4 linked regions of the Homo sapiens genome follow. The protein of the gene in region 4 interacts with the protein of the main gene of each other region in a biochemical or structural test. Each region holds a gene or a part of one and is shown on either strand. Other genes may lie near its edges.

Region 1 (3,500 bases), on a different chromosome or scaffold from region 4:
TTTCAGCCTGAAACAATGCCATATTTCGATCTAAAATAGTGATAGTAGCACATACCGGGTGTAAGTAAGTATCTGCTAAGCAAATAAACATATATACCTACATCAGGTTTACGTTTGGAATTAAACTTTTTAACTGGAAAAAACCTCTTATGTGTCAATATATGATAAGTCATTTATTATTGGTGTTCAAGCAGAGCCATGATAAATAATAATTCCGAGACCATGATAATCATGAATTTAGGGAGTACATACTAGTGGCCTCCAGTTCAGTTTCTTTTTTTCTTTTCTTTTTTTAACACAGGATCTCACTTTTGCCACCCAGGCTGGAGGGAAGTGGCATAATCATAGCTCACTGCAGCCTCAAATTCCTGGGTTCAAGAGATCCTCCTGCCTTAGCCTTCTGAGTAGCTGAAACCATAGGCGCTTGCCCCCACCTATGGCTAATTTTTAAATTTTTATAGAGACAGTGTCTCGCTGTAATGCCCAGATTAGTCTCGAATTCCTGGCCTCAAGCGATCCTCTTGCCTTGGCCTCCCAAAATGCTGGGCTTAAAGGCATGAGCCACTGCACCTGGCCCCAGTCTGTGTTTCTTTGGAAAAGAATGAAATTGAAGTTTTAATCCTATTCCTTGGACCCATTTTTGAAGAGCAAACAGGAGCTGCTCTACTTAATTGTAAACACTTTAGACTCCCACAAATGCAGACTGCAAGGACAGTGACCTTCCATTGTGTAGTGTGAAATATTTCCATACAGAAAACAATTTCACTAACACCGTGGCTATCAAAAACAGCAAAACAAACTTATTTTTAGCAAAACAGGATAATGAAGGCTTCTTTCATAGCAATCATTGTGCTGCAGGGCTATCTGGGTCTCCGCTGCCAAATGCTGAACCAGCTGTATTTTAAACTTCAGTCCTCGAGCTCCCCAGCCAGAGCCCAGACAGCAGGTAGAGGCAAGACAGAGAGGGGAAGCCTGTCAGTCCCTTGCAAGTTTGAAGAGAGCCTGTGAGGATAACCCAAACTGGTTCATCACTTGCCACCAGGGCTACTCGGACAGTGTGGTTTCGCTCTTTTTGTGAAATTCATTTTAATCTATGGTTTTGAGGTTTTATAGCTGACTCTGACTGCAGTCATTAAATAAACAAAAAAATGGGGGACTCATCCATTTATATATACTCCCAGAAAACATTAGCATGTACCCTAATTTGCATTGCCTTTAGTTACTTCCATGCTTTGTTAACAGAAAGTGCAAGTTGTCGGGAATTTACCAAAGGTTAAATTCTACAATCTGGTCATTTAGAACGCGGAATGCATTTCCCAGATGATAAACAGTGGGTAGAATCCCAGGCCAACCCATTCGATTCTTAATACAACAGGGAAAATAACAGTAGTCTTTGAACTTTATGTAATCACCACTGATAACATTTTTCCCGAGTTTCTCACTCTGAGATGCCCCGTCCCAGCCCTGGTATTGGCAGCAGGACCCACTTTGGTCTCTTGACACAAGCATGAGAGGAGAAGTGGGCAGGGCAGATTCTGATCTGGTCAGGTCCTTCTTTTGTGCCAACCAGAACCCGGATTTGGAAAATGAGGTACCTTTCTCCAGCATGAACAGCAGCCATAACTTGTTAATTTTGCGCATGCACAAAGAAGGCAATTTACAAGGACGATCATTGGCCAGATTTTCTGAAATGGAGAGCAAAGAGCAGGGGATAAACTCCCCTGCCAGCCATAAATGTAATGGAGTTGCTCGTAAGCCTGAGATTTGTAAATTCTCAGTGTTCTAAGGCTACCAGTCCTTACAACACCCACAGATTGGAGCCAAGATGATTCCAACAAACCCTTTCAGAGTTCATCTTTTGCAAAGCAGACCTCTACAGCCTTGCTTTCTAACAGTTCCTGAGGGCAAAACTTACAAGTAACACCACCAGGAGAAGTGTTAGTAAAAACCTAGTCAAGGAGGCCATTATTTTTGACAGGTCTAATTTACTGACACTGTTAATAGCTAATTAACACATTAAGGTGCTGAGGCATGAACATATTTATTTAGAAGTTCTCTGAAGTATAATTTATAGTTAGTTCTCCTGGGAGAAATGGCAAGCATTCCCACTAGCAAAAATAGATGGCATACACTAAAAACAAGCTGGCTGAAAATCATACTCAGCTGAAGTTCAAGTGGTACTTTGAAAGGAGTATGGGTTAACAATAAACAGAAATCACAAGCTCATTCAGCTGTGAAATTTTCAAATAGTAAAATACAGTGACTTTAAATTAATGAACTCTGTTGGAGGAAAGCTTCAAGGTGTTCCTTAAAAGTTAAGTGTTTTCCAAATTATGTGTACTTTATTTTCAATTGCAAATCAGCAAAAAACGAAAACATCCACTTGGTGGAGACAATTCGCTAATAGCACCTGTGCTAGTTGATGGATTTAGGGGGGAAAAAAGAATGTGCTTTTCTTTTCCTGGTAGCTTTGTGTACTTCTGCAAATCCTTTGAGAGAACAGTGGTATGGGGAGGGCAGGAACTCTGAGTTTCACCTCTGGTGCTTCTATTTACCCAAGGTATGTACTTGGTTATAGGACCTAATCTCTTTGAGGCTCAGTTCTCTCATCTGTAAAACAGGGATGGCAGCACCTCCTTCACAGGATGAATAATATGGATGTCTGCTGAGCAGTAAGAAAGTCATCAAAGCATCCCGTCATATTATAATACTACAATGGATTCTAAGCAGAAATTAGAGCTGGGTTCTTAATATGGCATAACGTTAAATCTAGACATATAGCTTTGCTAGGCCTCATTTTTCTTATAAGGAAAACAAGTGGCAATGATACCCCTAGGGGAGGGGAATCAGAGATTTCTTTATATAAGAAATTTAGGGCTGGGCGCATGGCTCATGCCTGTAATCCCAGCACTTTGAGAGGCAGAGGCGGGCAGATCACTTGAGGTCAGGAGTTCAAGACCAGCCTGGCCAACATGGTGAAACCCTGTCTCTACTAAAAATACAAAAATCAGCCAGGTGTGGCAGTGGGTGCCTGTAATCCCAGCTACTCAGGAGGCTGAGGCAGGAGAATTGCTTGAACCCGGGAGGTGGAAGTTGCAGTGAGCAGAGATCATGCCATGGCACTCTGTCCTGGGGGACAGAGTGAAACTTTGTCTCAAAAAAAAAAAGAAAAGAAATTCAGAATAATGACCTCGTCGTTTGACTCCAAGAGTTCTTCTACCTAACACAAGATAGGCAAGAGTCACGAGCCTTCTCTCTCCCTTCCTGGATTCTCTTCCCAATCTAGAGCTCATACCTGGGTTTAAGGGGAGGGCTGTTCCACTCAGGCCACCATGGCCACTTTCTCCAAAGGCAATGTCAGGACCAGCACCCACCAGATGTGGCTGACCTGGGAATGCAAGGTAGAGGACAAACAGAGGGCCCCTACCCTGGAAGCTTCCACTTGCAGGTGGGGGAATCAACTCCCCTCCACAGGAAAACACAGTTGCATGATTTAACCC
Region 2 (3,166 bases), on a different chromosome or scaffold from region 4:
TTCCTGAATCAAGTGTGTGTAGTGGAACCGGTGGTCCAGCCAGGCACTCAGAAGCTCATTCTCTCACCACCATGCTTTCTGGTCTTGACTTGGAGCTAAATACCGTGTGCTGAAGGGAAAAAGTTGAAAAAGAGAGATGCTTACTTTTCTTGAAATACTGTTGACTATGAGAAGTAAACTTCATCTGTAAATTTTTAAGATGAAAATTTACATCAGGTTTTTTTTCCTTGGTCCACTGGTGGGTAGCCAGTAGATGTAGTTTAGGTGAAATCACTACTCTCTCTACCCCTTCTCCTTCCCTACCTGTTTATCTAATTGGTGTTCCTTCAAGGAAGCTTTCTTAGGGATGTGTTAGAGTCTAGAAATGTCATTAAGAATCTGTTCAGGTAGTGCCCACATGCTATTGTCCTGAGCTTTTAATATATTTGAAAACTTAGCAAGTCTTCCTCTTTCAATTGCTCTGGATTTTGAGCCATTGCTGGGATTCCTCCATCTTCTGCATTATTGCCACACTGGAATGTCATACATGGAAGCAAACGGGATTGAATGCTTGAGAGGTGACACCCTCGGCCTGTATACTACTAGCCTTTAGTTAACTTTGCAACAACTGGATTTTCTGGGGAGAAGCTGAACATAGTATCTTCCTAGTTAAGCTTTATTCCTTTAACCTTAATCAGGGTTTAGTAAGACTAAAACTCTTATCCATTTAATGCCCGTTCCTGTACAGAGCAATTCTATAGAATAAAGAAAGTGTTTTTTCTCTATTACAAGTGAGAGAGTTGTTACTAGCACTAGGTTTGTTAAGTCACACAACCGAAAATTGGAATTAACATCCTTAATCCAAAGAGGAACTGCATATATATATATATACACACACACACACACACATACACACACATACATATACATATATATGTGTGAGTGTATATTTTCATGTGTGTGTATAATTTTTCCCCTTCCTCTCTCCTTTTCCTTCATTCTTTTTTTTTCTTTCAGTAGTGTAATTCCAGAAAAAAAGAGAACAAGACATTTGAGAGAAGGTTCAGTGACTGTTAGAGTCGACTTGATCAGTAGCTTGTTCAACGTGAAAGTTAACTGTGTTATAGGTCTGGCTTCCGGCCACTGCTGTCACCTGTGCAGCAAACTGTTCCTATGAGCAATTCTTTCATTTAATCTTCTCTTTAAATGTAGATGTATAGCTTCTTGTTCGTGCTGATATCAACTTTAGCCAGTTCTGGAAGTTGTGACATAAGTATACGTAATGAACTAGTGGATTATACTTGGCTTTAAAACTGTTTTAATTCATTATTTCTATACAAAATAAGGCATTGCAAAGTTGAGATGAAAGTTTCTCTCTCCGTGCCTCTCTCTTCCATCTTCCCTTCATCTCTTGTCTTTCTCCCTTTTTTCAGAGGAAGCTCACCAGTGTGGGAAGGGGCTTCTCATCCACTGCCAGGCTGGGGTGTCCCGCTCCGCCACCATCGTCATCGCTTACTTGATGAAGCACACTCGGATGACCATGACTGATGCTTATAAATTTGTCAAAGGCAAACGACCAATTATCTCCCCAAACCTTAACTTCATGGGGCAGTTGCTAGAGTTCGAGGAAGACCTAAACAACGGTGTGACACCGAGAATCCTTACACCAAAGCTGATGGGCGTGGAGACGGTTGTGTGACAATGGTCTGGATGGAAAGGATTGCTGCTCTCCATTAGGAGACAATGAGGAAGGAGGATGGATTCTGGTTTTTTTTCTTTCTTTTTTTTTTTGTAGTTGGGAGTAAGTTTGTGAATGGAAACAAACTTGTTTAAACACTTTATTTTTAACAAGTGTAAGAAGACTATAACTTTTGATGCCATTGAGATTCACCTCCCACAAACTGACAAATTAAGGAGGTTAAAGAAGTAATTTTTTTAAGCCAACAATAAAAATATAATACAACTTGTTTCTCCCCCTTTTCCTTTTAAGCTATTTGTAGAGTTTATGACTAAATAGTCTGTGCAGGTTCATAGACCGAAGATACTACACACTTTAAACCAATTAAAAAGAACCAAAAGTAAATAGAAAAGACATTGAATCACCAAGGCCTGGGATCAACCTGGGCTGTCCACACAGAAAACAAAAACCCAACCAAACCAAGCCCTGTTGTGCTCACTGGTGCAAAGAGAAGATCAGGGCAGCTTAAGTGGTCTAAGAATCCTTCAGGCATTCTTTAAGGAGAAAAAGGATACCTTTGATTTTGTGTGTTTCATGCTCTGGATTTTTTTTTTTTTTCCTTCTCTGGGTTTAAGAGATTTTTTTTGAAATAGTGAGGAACTGACCATTATATGCCTTCACTGGCTTCTTGTGCAATAATATGATGTTTTAAGTGTGCAAACAAGTTAGAGCTGGCAGCTGAATGATAGACAAATAGTGCAAATTTGCCAGCTTGGAGATAGAAAGGAATTCAACAATATATCAAATACTTTCCTTCCCACCTTTTTCCTTTTTTTTTTTTTTTTCTGATTTGATTCTGGTTACAGTGCCATAAACCTTGTTACATATGTATATCAGAATGTAAGAAAAAAAAATTTATTTAAAAATATTTTTCGCAAAAAAAAAAAAAATCTTGGTGTGTTTCTGTTGATTGTGTAAAAATTTATTTTCATTATATAAATGAAACTGGTTTAGGATGTGTCTTTTTTTCCCCTCTCTTTTACCTTAACTCAGGTTCAAGCCTTTCTTAAGCTCTGGTAACTTGCATATACAACAAAGTTGAAATAAAACAGATTTTTATATAGGGAAAGAGAGATGAGGAAGGGAACATATCCAGTTTTCTCACTGTGAAACAGAGTTAGCAAGGAAGTGGAAGAGCTCCAGTATTGATCTGCCCAGTCACTGTCCCTTATATTCTCACAATGCTGTCATCCTCTCCTGCAAATATCATTCCTTTTGCATCGGGGAAGGCTTGCATTAAGGGGATCCCATCTGCCTTTGCGCCTTGGTGACCAAATCCCTGCCAGATTGATTGGTGAGAATTCAGTGATCTCCCTAGTGGCTATTTGATAAATACTTAGGACAATCTTCCATTTAGGGATCTTGATGTTCCTCCCCCCACCCCCCCACCCCATTGTCACTTGCTCACTTGGCATCTTTGGTGACATTAACCATGTAATGCGTTGCAGC
Region 3 (3,500 bases), on a different chromosome or scaffold from region 4:
TCGGGGGGATAGAGTCTCACTGTGTCACCCAGGCTGGAGTGCAGTGGCATGATCTCAGCTCACTGCAGCCTCCGCCTCCTGGGTTCAAGCGATTCTCGTGCCTCAGTCTCCTGAGTATCTGGGATTACAGGTGCCCACCAGCACGCCCGGCTTCTTTTTGTATTTTTAGTAGAAATGGGGTTTCACCATGTTGGCCAGACTGGTCTCAAACTCCCAACATCATGTGATCCACCTGCCTCAGCCTCCCAAAGTGTTGGGATTTGACTCCACATCTTGATCACATCTTTCCCTTGTTTCTCTCTTCTGTCTCTAGCCCTTGTTCTCATCCGCTTCCCCACTTCAATTTTCCTCTTATTTTCTCTTTCCTAGCTTCCCCAGCTTCCCCTCTTCCATCTTCCTTACAACTATTCCTATGAGTAATGCCCCCTAGCATTGCCTCTTAGCCTGACATTCTTGAAACCATACAGTTGAAACCCTGTTAGAACATTACCACACTGTACTGTTTTCCCCGGCATTTGCTTACCACTCCGTAAGCTGTTGGTGCAGTTTCTGCACATCTAAGATTGTTCTCCACCAGTAACTTGTATTAAGAGCAATTATGATCATCACTATTGTGCTCTCACCGAGTGCCTATCACTGCTCTAAGCACTTTACATGGATGAGCCTACATAATCCTTGCTTGAAGGAGATATAATTTTCCAGATGAGGAAACTTAGGAAGATAAAATAGCTTGTCCACAACCACAGAGTGGCAGAGCCAGAATTCAAATGCAGGCAGCCTTGCCCCAGATCCTACACTCTGAGCAGATGGGACCCTAAGTTAGTTGCTCGTAATCCTGATTCAGGTGTCCTGGCATGCCATGAGTCACACTCACACAGGCTGTTCTCTGCTGTGATAAGAAATTGAAATTTGGACCCACTATTTGCTTCAATGACATTTAGAATTGATAACTCTTTTTATTTTCAACTTAAATGGTAGTATCTCAGTAGGACACTCACAGCTTTAAATCCCATCAAGATTTTAACTCATCACCATTCCGAAGAGATCTTACTTAAATGATTTTTTTTGTGTGTGTTGTCTGTCAGGAATATAAATTGAAGATATAAAAGCCAGCACCCGCAATAATTCTGCAACTGGTAGGAGGCAACCCAGGACCTCTTGGTGACCTTAATAAGGGTCTTCTTTGGCTTATCCAGGATGTGACCTTCTGCAGCCTCCAGTATTAGACATTCCAGGGCATTTTCTGCCTTTTAAAAAGCATCTGATTCTCATTCTGGTGTTTAATCAGAGAGAGACCGTTGGCCTCTTTCCATTCCTCATGGGAGAGCTCCATTTTTGTGCTCACATTTTTCATCTTTGGTGATACTCAGGGTTGATGTTTTAGTGGGCTAGACTTTCTGCATTGGATTAAAACCTTTCACATGAGCTTGGTGAATTCTCCAGTGACCAAGTCCCCTGGGGGCCTCCAACCCTATAGATTCCAGCATGATAAGAGTGGAAAGGAGTCCGGAACATCATGCCTGGGGTATAGTGAGCACTCACACCATGGATTTATTTTTTCATTTTCCAAGCCCCCAACCATGTAAGGTATTTTATAAACATTATTTTATTTGATTCTCCCAACAATTCTATACCACTGGAATTATGTCCGTCTTCATTTTTCTAGATGAAGAGACAGAGGCTCAGAGACTAAGCTTCCCAGTGCTCAGGGTTACATGGTGAAGGAGGCAGAGTTTGCATGTACACCTGCTGAGCCACAGGGACCATGCCTATGTGTTTTATTTGTGTGCTATCTGCTCCCTGAGATGAATGAGGTTAGATATTTTCTTAGGAGAAGAAATACTTGGAAGGCACAAATGGGGTATGACAAACTATGTTCAGCTTCTCTGTGGCTAGCAGACCTGAGCTAGCCCCCTCCCCCTCTGTATTTGAATATAGTCCCATCTGTTACCTACCTATGTAAGGCTTCCAGGTAAGGAGGATGTAAGGCTGTTGGCTGGCAGGAGGCAGAACACAGTAGATCCACAGACTAGTAAAGGCAATGCCTGTCTCTGACTTCCGATCTTAGGGCTGTACCTCCCTCATTTGTGTCCAAAGACCCAACATCTTTAGGGTTCTCCCCCTGCCTCCTCCCCATCTAACCCTGCCCACTGACAACTCCAGTGCCTTCTTCTCAAGTTCTTCTGTAATTCTTAATTTAATAATCAAACTATGCTGATAAACTATGCTAATTGCCTAGATCTGTGGTTCTGCAACTTTTATGGACATCAGAATCACCTGGAGGCTTGGTAAACACAGATCATTGGACCTCACCCCAGAGTTCTGATTCAGGAGGTGTTGCCAGTGCCGCCGGTCCAGGGACCACACTGTGGGAACCACTGAATCAGGGAGCCTGGTCCCAGTTATATGTGTGTTGATGGTGTCTGACCAGTTGGGTATCTGATAATTCAGCCTTACTGGGAAAGATGCCATGGGAAGATAGGAAGGCATTTGAGATAGGAGACTCAGGCTTTTGTCCCTTCATCATAGCAGTAGATAATTATCTTTTACGTTGACGTGCAGTGGCTTTAGACAGCTTCTCATGGTTGTGAGCCTCTGCCAGCTCTTAAATCTTTGAGCCTGTTTTCCTCTGTGGATGAAATGGCCTTTCCTTCTAATTATTTTTGATTCCCATATCAGGTTTCTCAAGCTAAGATTGCATTGGAAGCACCTGGAGGTCTTGTTAAAGTGAGGATTCTGAGTTATTAAGTCTGAGGTGGGACCCAAGGTTCTGCATGTCTAATGAGCTCCCAGGTGATATAGATGCTGCCGGTCCATGGACCAGCAATTCTGAGTTACAACTGTATACAGCAGTGGTGCTTGCCCCTGCTGCCCAGTAGAATCACCCAAGGAGCTTTTAAAAACGAATACTTGAGCCACATTCCTTGGAGATTCTAGTTTAATTCTGGGGATTAGAATTTTTAACTCCCCCATTCCCCAACCCCCATGTGATTCCAATGTACAGTCAGAGTTGGAAGCCATTGGCCTTTACCCACAAAAAGGGATAACACCTTCTGGGAGCTCAGGTGCGTGTGTGGCACCATAGACCAGGTTGGGCTGGTCGCTTCCATGCAGGGAGGGTGCACCATTACTCCTGGGGAGCTGCAAAGGTCACCTGGGAATCTTGTTAAATTACAGATTCTGCTTTGGCAGGTTTGGGGTGGGACCTGGGTTTCTGCATTTCTAATAGATATCTTAGTGTTGCTGATGCTGCCAGTCCAGGCTGGTGCTAAGTCCCAAGACCCACCCACAAGGGCCCACACGATGCCCATTATCTCTGCCGGTGGTGGCAGCGGGTAGCTTTTCTCATGTCGAGTGTTAGAGGCTTTTGGCTTCCACCATCTGTCTCCTTAAACGCCATTCTGACGTCTCTTTTATTCAGCTTGGTATTGACACAAGACAGCGGGCAATATAGGTCTGTTCTCTTTTTGTAATATTTTCTTCCTTCTCTCTTCACAGTA
Region 4 (5,352 bases):
GGGAAAGAGTGAAGGACTAAGGAGAATAAACTCGGCTTAATGCTCTGTTGTCTTGAGACCGTACCTTACTCTTACGCTGTCTCTCACTTTCTCTCTCTTTGACCCTATCACCAAACAGACAACTTCCTGCTGAGTATGGGCACTAATAGCACCTAAGAGAAGGATGCAGCCCTCCAGATGAGTGGTCCTCAATGGGAAGGAACACATTCAAATTACCTAAAGAGCACTAGCTACGAGACTGGTGAATAAATTCTCCTGAGAGACTGATGTCAGCTCAGTATTGAGAATGACTTTCTAGCAGATCTGCCTAAGATGTAGGCTATCTGTAAGCTGCTGCTTTTTCCTGGAGGCATTTATACAGAGGCTAATTGCTACTGACAAGGATACTGCAGAGAGAATTCAAGCATCAGATGGGGACTTGTACCCAATGAACTCTCAGGTTCCTTCTAATCCCAGATACAAGGAAATCTAGAAACTGTAGCAAAGTATAGAGAGTATTTTGATCTGGGGAAAAGAAATCATGAAAACATAAGATGTTATTACTACTAACAATTACTTTTTATAGTCATATCTAAACAATAGCCAAACAGCTGGTTTGGATTCTTTTTTCTCCCACTCAGTTGACTAAATTCAGTTGTTTTGACATTATGTAGGCAGAGCCAGAGAGTAAGCAAAACTCCTCCAAATGTTTCTTTTCATCAACAGATACTGCAATTGCCTTTCCCTGCTAGTAGATTCCAGAAAGTAGGCACTGCCAATCTCCTGAGTGTTAAACATCAATTTCCCTATGCAAGGCTGTATGAGTAATTTATCCAGTGAAGTAATGCCCTTAGCATCTCTTACTGTCTGGCAATTAAGAATCACCCTTGCAGGACAGTTTTGCAGTTGTTTCCAACTCTTTCTCTTTACCTACATCTTCCTTTCCCATTCTGCAGTAAACTACACCCGGCCGGTGATTATCCTGGGGCCCATGAAGGATCGGATCAATGACGACTTGATATCTGAATTCCCTGATAAATTTGGCTCCTGTGTGCCTCGTAAGTGTCATTTTTCTTTCCTCTAGGAAAAACAAAAAGAGCTTGGATTTCTTTATGAGATGGTAAAATGTAATTCCATCCTCCAGTAGTCTCTCCAGTAATTCAAATACCAACCATTTCCGATTAGCTGAGTGCCTTATTTAATTTATTTGCCTAACACTTTTCATTTATGCTGCCGTGTGTCATTCTGTATTTAATAAAAATAATAATGTTTTCTCTAAACTGATTGTAGCCCCTTAAAAGGCAGGATGAATTTTTGTGGCCCCCAACCATTTAAAACAGCATAGGATTTATGATAGGCATCAGTATGTTTTCATAGATTGATCAAAATGCCACTGAAACATTATTTTTTATAGGATGGAAGAGATCGGAAACAAAGCCATATATTAAAATCCTCTCAGGATGACTTAGGGCCATATGTCAATCCCAAAACCCAATAGGCTTTCCCATGTTGACAGTCCCAGGTTTAGGGAGGGTGAAGACAAGAAAATGTGTAACACTTCAATTTGACCTCTAGGCCATTACAGACTTTAAACTACTTTCTTCTCATTATAGATTATCATCAGGCTTCTGGTCCCTCTGATTGTAGCCTTATTAGATTCTAACTGCTCTGCCTCTTCCCCTCCCCACCCCTACCATACTTTCTCCACTCATTCACCCCGTCTACACCCCGACTCTGTCAAACAGAAATGCATGCAGACCTTCTACGTATGTAGACAGGTCCATCAGGAAATTTTAATTTATTAGATAATGGAGCTCTTACATCTGATACCAACAAATATTTCTCTTCCATTCTATGTGTTTTAAGCCTGATGCTTTCAAGTGTCTCTAACATTCCAGTACTGCAAATTTTACATGAGATACTTAAGAATAGCAGGAATTGTATGTGTCCAGTACATGGCCAAAAGACTAGGATGATTGCTGTATCTCATGAAACAATTCCCAGCAAGGGCTCTGGGAAGAGATCCTGCCATAGAACATATCCTGAGAAAGTCTTCAGACAGGAAGGAGCAAATGAAACTCCAGGTCGTTTACAGCAAGCTTCCAGCTTGCTCCTCCACTTTTGAGAGAAAGAAAACAGAAGGTACTTAAGCATTCTTTCTGCTTTCCCTTTCACCTTGCATATTCTCTCTTTTTTGAATTAATAGAACCATTTTGTGATAGTCAATAGATGTTCATTGTACAAAACTTCAAAAACACTAAAAAGAAAGTTAAACGAGAAAATTAGAAGTATACAAAATCCCACACAATACCCAGAGATAACATCATTGTTAATATTTTTGTACATTTCCATCTATTCTTTCTATGCATGCATTTTTTCTCTGTGATGATTTTTTTGCTTATTTAAAATTTTATATAACTATTTCAAATGATTATTATATCCCAATTAATCATTCTTTATGAACATTTTGGTTTTTCCCTATTTTTCACTATTATGAATTGTGACAAAAATATCATCGTAATTGTGTTATAATTATTACTTATAAAATAATATAATGAATATCTTTAAGGATAAATCTGTATCTGAAGTTTTGATCATTTTTAAAAACATATTTCTAGGAAAAAATAAGTGAGTCAAAGATTAAAAATATTTTAACAGCTTTTATTCATATTGCTAGATTGCTTTCCCCTTCTCTTCTTACCAAAAAATTTAGGTGAAATGGTTAGAGTTGCTGATTTTTAGTCCTATCTAACTGTGATTATCTTATTTTATATATGTTGAGAGTCTGAATTTTATGGTCCTTTATAGAATGTTAAGTTTTTGTTCTGACAGGTGATAATTTACTGACACAGCAGCTTCTTCCATTTGTGACATGGTTTTAGACTTTGTGAAGATGGGTGTAGAGTAAGTCTAGAGTAACCTTTTAAAATGTGGCCTTTCTGGGATCTCCATGGGTTCTGACTCAACTCCCGTGTCTTCTAGCACCATGTGATGTCTAAACTCTCCATTTGGAAATGGCCTCTAGGTAGAGAGGTGGGGTGAATGCTCTCTCATATGTTTCTCTTTTCTCAAAGATTACAGCCCTGTACTTCCTGTTGTCTGATATCTGAAAACAGTTGTTTCATATATTTTGTCCAGTTTTTTAGTTGCTTATGGTGGGAGGGTAAGACTAGTACCTGTTACTATGTCATATTTCTTCATACTACATATTTCTACATATCAATGTTGAGGATGTGGTGGAGAATATAGGTGTAAAGCAAGTTTATGGGTATAAATGCACCTTAATTTTATCATTTTTTGTTTTATAAAGATACTACGAGGCCAAAGCGAGACTACGAGGTGGATGGCAGAGACTATCACTTTGTCATTTCCAGAGAACAAATGGAGAAAGATATCCAAGAGCACAAGTTTATAGAAGCCGGCCAGTACAATGACAATTTATATGGAACCAGTGTGCAGTCTGTGAGATTTGTAGCAGAAAGAGTATGTTCACCAATCTTCTTACACCTCCCCTGAAGAAGGTTTCTAGGTTGCAAACTGCATTTTTTTTTTTTTTTGGTCATTACTCTTTCTTGATTGCAATTGTAAATTTTGATTTAATAATTTAAAACATCCAAGCAGAGAATCACCTTAGAGCAATGTCATTAATCTTTGTTCTAATTTCAATAAAGTATTCTCACTGACTTGGAAAAAGTAGGAAGAGGGCTTTGTCTTTGACTCACTATCTGAGGCCCCAATACACAACCTTGATTTTATTAAGGCAGGTTTACTACTTTAGTTGTAAACCAAGGGGATAGCATTCCTGAATTATTTTGTTAGAGGAAGTTATTTTTTTTCTCTCTCTCTGAAAACTTGACATCCTCATGGTAGAAGAGAAGATAGATGAGAAGGGCTGCCCAGCCTTTTGCTCGCAGAAGTTCTAGCTTAGAGGAGGTGTAGATGCTGCTATTATCTTTTTGCTGGTAACTTCAGGGGCATGGAAAAGAGAAGAATGTTCAAGAGAGGGTACCATAGGAAGGCACCTGGGTGTGGCTACACAATCTGCCTACAGAGGGATCCTATTTCCTGTGAACACAGAGAACCAGTATCATAGGAGAAGATATTTGTTGGGTTGATTTGATTTGCCATGACCTTTCTCAATGTACCGCTAAAGAATTAAGTAATTTTGATGTCTATCTAAGAATACACTAAGAAGTTGCATCTATTTTCCTCCCTCTCAAAAGTTCAGTTCTATCAACTAAATGAATACTGGTTCTAGTCAAACTGTCCTGGATAATTGCACCTATTTTCCTCTTTGTTCATGTTGTTAACTTGAAATGTTCTGACTGGTGAATAATCAACCAGCATTTATACATGTTATGTGGCTGCTGCACTTCACAGATAGAAAACTTGAAATCTATTACCTAAGTAATAACGGCTTGAACCATCTTAGTGGGTTTCTCAGATAAGAAGACTTCAAGTATTCACTGGACTGTATTCATTTTCATGTGAACATTATAGATGAGATTTTAGCCCTTATTATTGATTTAGTATTGTTCCTATCTGCATAAAGTGCCTTTTTTCTCTTCTTGCATAAAGTTATTCTAGCCTCAGGGTAATGAGGACATTTCTCTCCAGGAGGTAGAATATGATGTGGCAAATGTATCTGCATATCCAGAAATGCTTTATAAAGCAGCTGCTTGCTCTGAGCACTCATTGTGGTGGAAGCCAAGTTAAATGAGGTGTGCTATAATGTAATAGCATTTTTATTTGTTAACAAACAAGAAATTTACATACCTCATGCAAGCCTTTCTCTCTTGGCATTTAACCCGCATTTAATTTATATATATATATATATATATGTTTTAATTATATATTTTATATGTGTGTGTGTATATATATATATATATATATATATATATATATATATATACATATAGTTTTTATTTTTTTTGAGATGGCATTTCACTCTTATTGCCCAGGCTGGAATGCCATGGCACGGTCTCAGCTCACTGCAACCTCCACCTCCTGGGTTCAAGTGATTCTCCTGCCTCAGCCTCTCAAGTAGCTGGGATTACAGGTGCCCACCACCATGCCTGGTGAACTTTTTGGATTTTTAGCAGAGACAGGGTCTCACCATTTTGGTCAGGCTGGTCTCGAACTCCTGATCTCAGGTGATCCACCCGCCTCGGCCTCCTAGAGTGCTAGGATTACAGCCATGAGCCACTGCACCCAACCAACCATATGTTTAAGTTAACCATTTTTGTGTCTGCCCTCCACTAGACTGAGTACCTTGCAGACAGGATATGTACAAGTACTTGGAAAAATTCACATTATTCTCAATCTTCCACACCGAATGTTGGGCAGGGTGAGACAATGAGGTGTCTATTTTTT

What was found.
Region 1: the proteins of DLG2 (region 4) and CLDN10 interact in a test that uses a peptide from one of them, tested with the Homo sapiens proteins (one large-scale study listed by IntAct).
Region 2: the proteins of DLG2 (region 4) and DUSP10 interact in a test that uses a peptide from one of them, tested with the Homo sapiens proteins (one large-scale study listed by IntAct).
Region 3: the proteins of DLG2 (region 4) and PRKCA interact in a test that uses a peptide from one of them, tested with the Homo sapiens proteins (one large-scale study listed by IntAct).

What each region holds. Positions count from the first base shown.
Region 1 is NC_000013.11:95,555,720-95,559,219, reverse strand, and holds part of CLDN10 (claudin-10), read right to left. Parts: exon of another isoform or gene 3,296-3,500; intron 1,722-3,295; exon of another isoform or gene 1,642-1,721; coding exon of another isoform or gene 1,596-1,641; intron 1-1,595. UniProt on the Homo sapiens protein: Forms paracellular channels: polymerizes in tight junction strands with cation- and anion-selective channels through the strands, conveying epithelial permeability in a process known as paracellular tight junction permeability.
Region 2 is NC_000001.11:221,700,924-221,704,089, reverse strand, and holds the end of DUSP10 (dual specificity protein phosphatase 10), read left to right. Parts: intron 1-1,412; coding exon 1,413-1,678; 3' UTR 1,679-2,666; downstream 2,667-3,166. UniProt on the Homo sapiens protein: Protein phosphatase involved in the inactivation of MAP kinases. Has a specificity for the MAPK11/MAPK12/MAPK13/MAPK14 subfamily. It preferably dephosphorylates p38.
Region 3 is NC_000017.11:66,683,613-66,687,112, forward strand, and holds part of PRKCA (protein kinase C alpha type), read left to right. Parts: intron 1-3,498; coding exon 3,499-3,500. UniProt on the Homo sapiens protein: Calcium-activated, phospholipid- and diacylglycerol (DAG)-dependent serine/threonine-protein kinase that is involved in positive and negative regulation of cell proliferation, apoptosis, differentiation, migration and adhesion, tumorigenesis, cardiac hypertrophy, angiogenesis, platelet function and inflammation, by directly phosphorylating targets such as RAF1, BCL2, CSPG4, TNNT2/CTNT, or activating signaling cascade involving MAPK1/3 (ERK1/2) and RAP1GAP.
Region 4 is NC_000011.10:83,467,311-83,472,662, reverse strand, and holds part of DLG2 (disks large homolog 2), read left to right. Parts: intron 1-935; coding exon 936-1,037; intron 1,038-3,289; coding exon 3,290-3,462; intron 3,463-5,352. UniProt on the Homo sapiens protein: Required for perception of chronic pain through NMDA receptor signaling. Regulates surface expression of NMDA receptors in dorsal horn neurons of the spinal cord.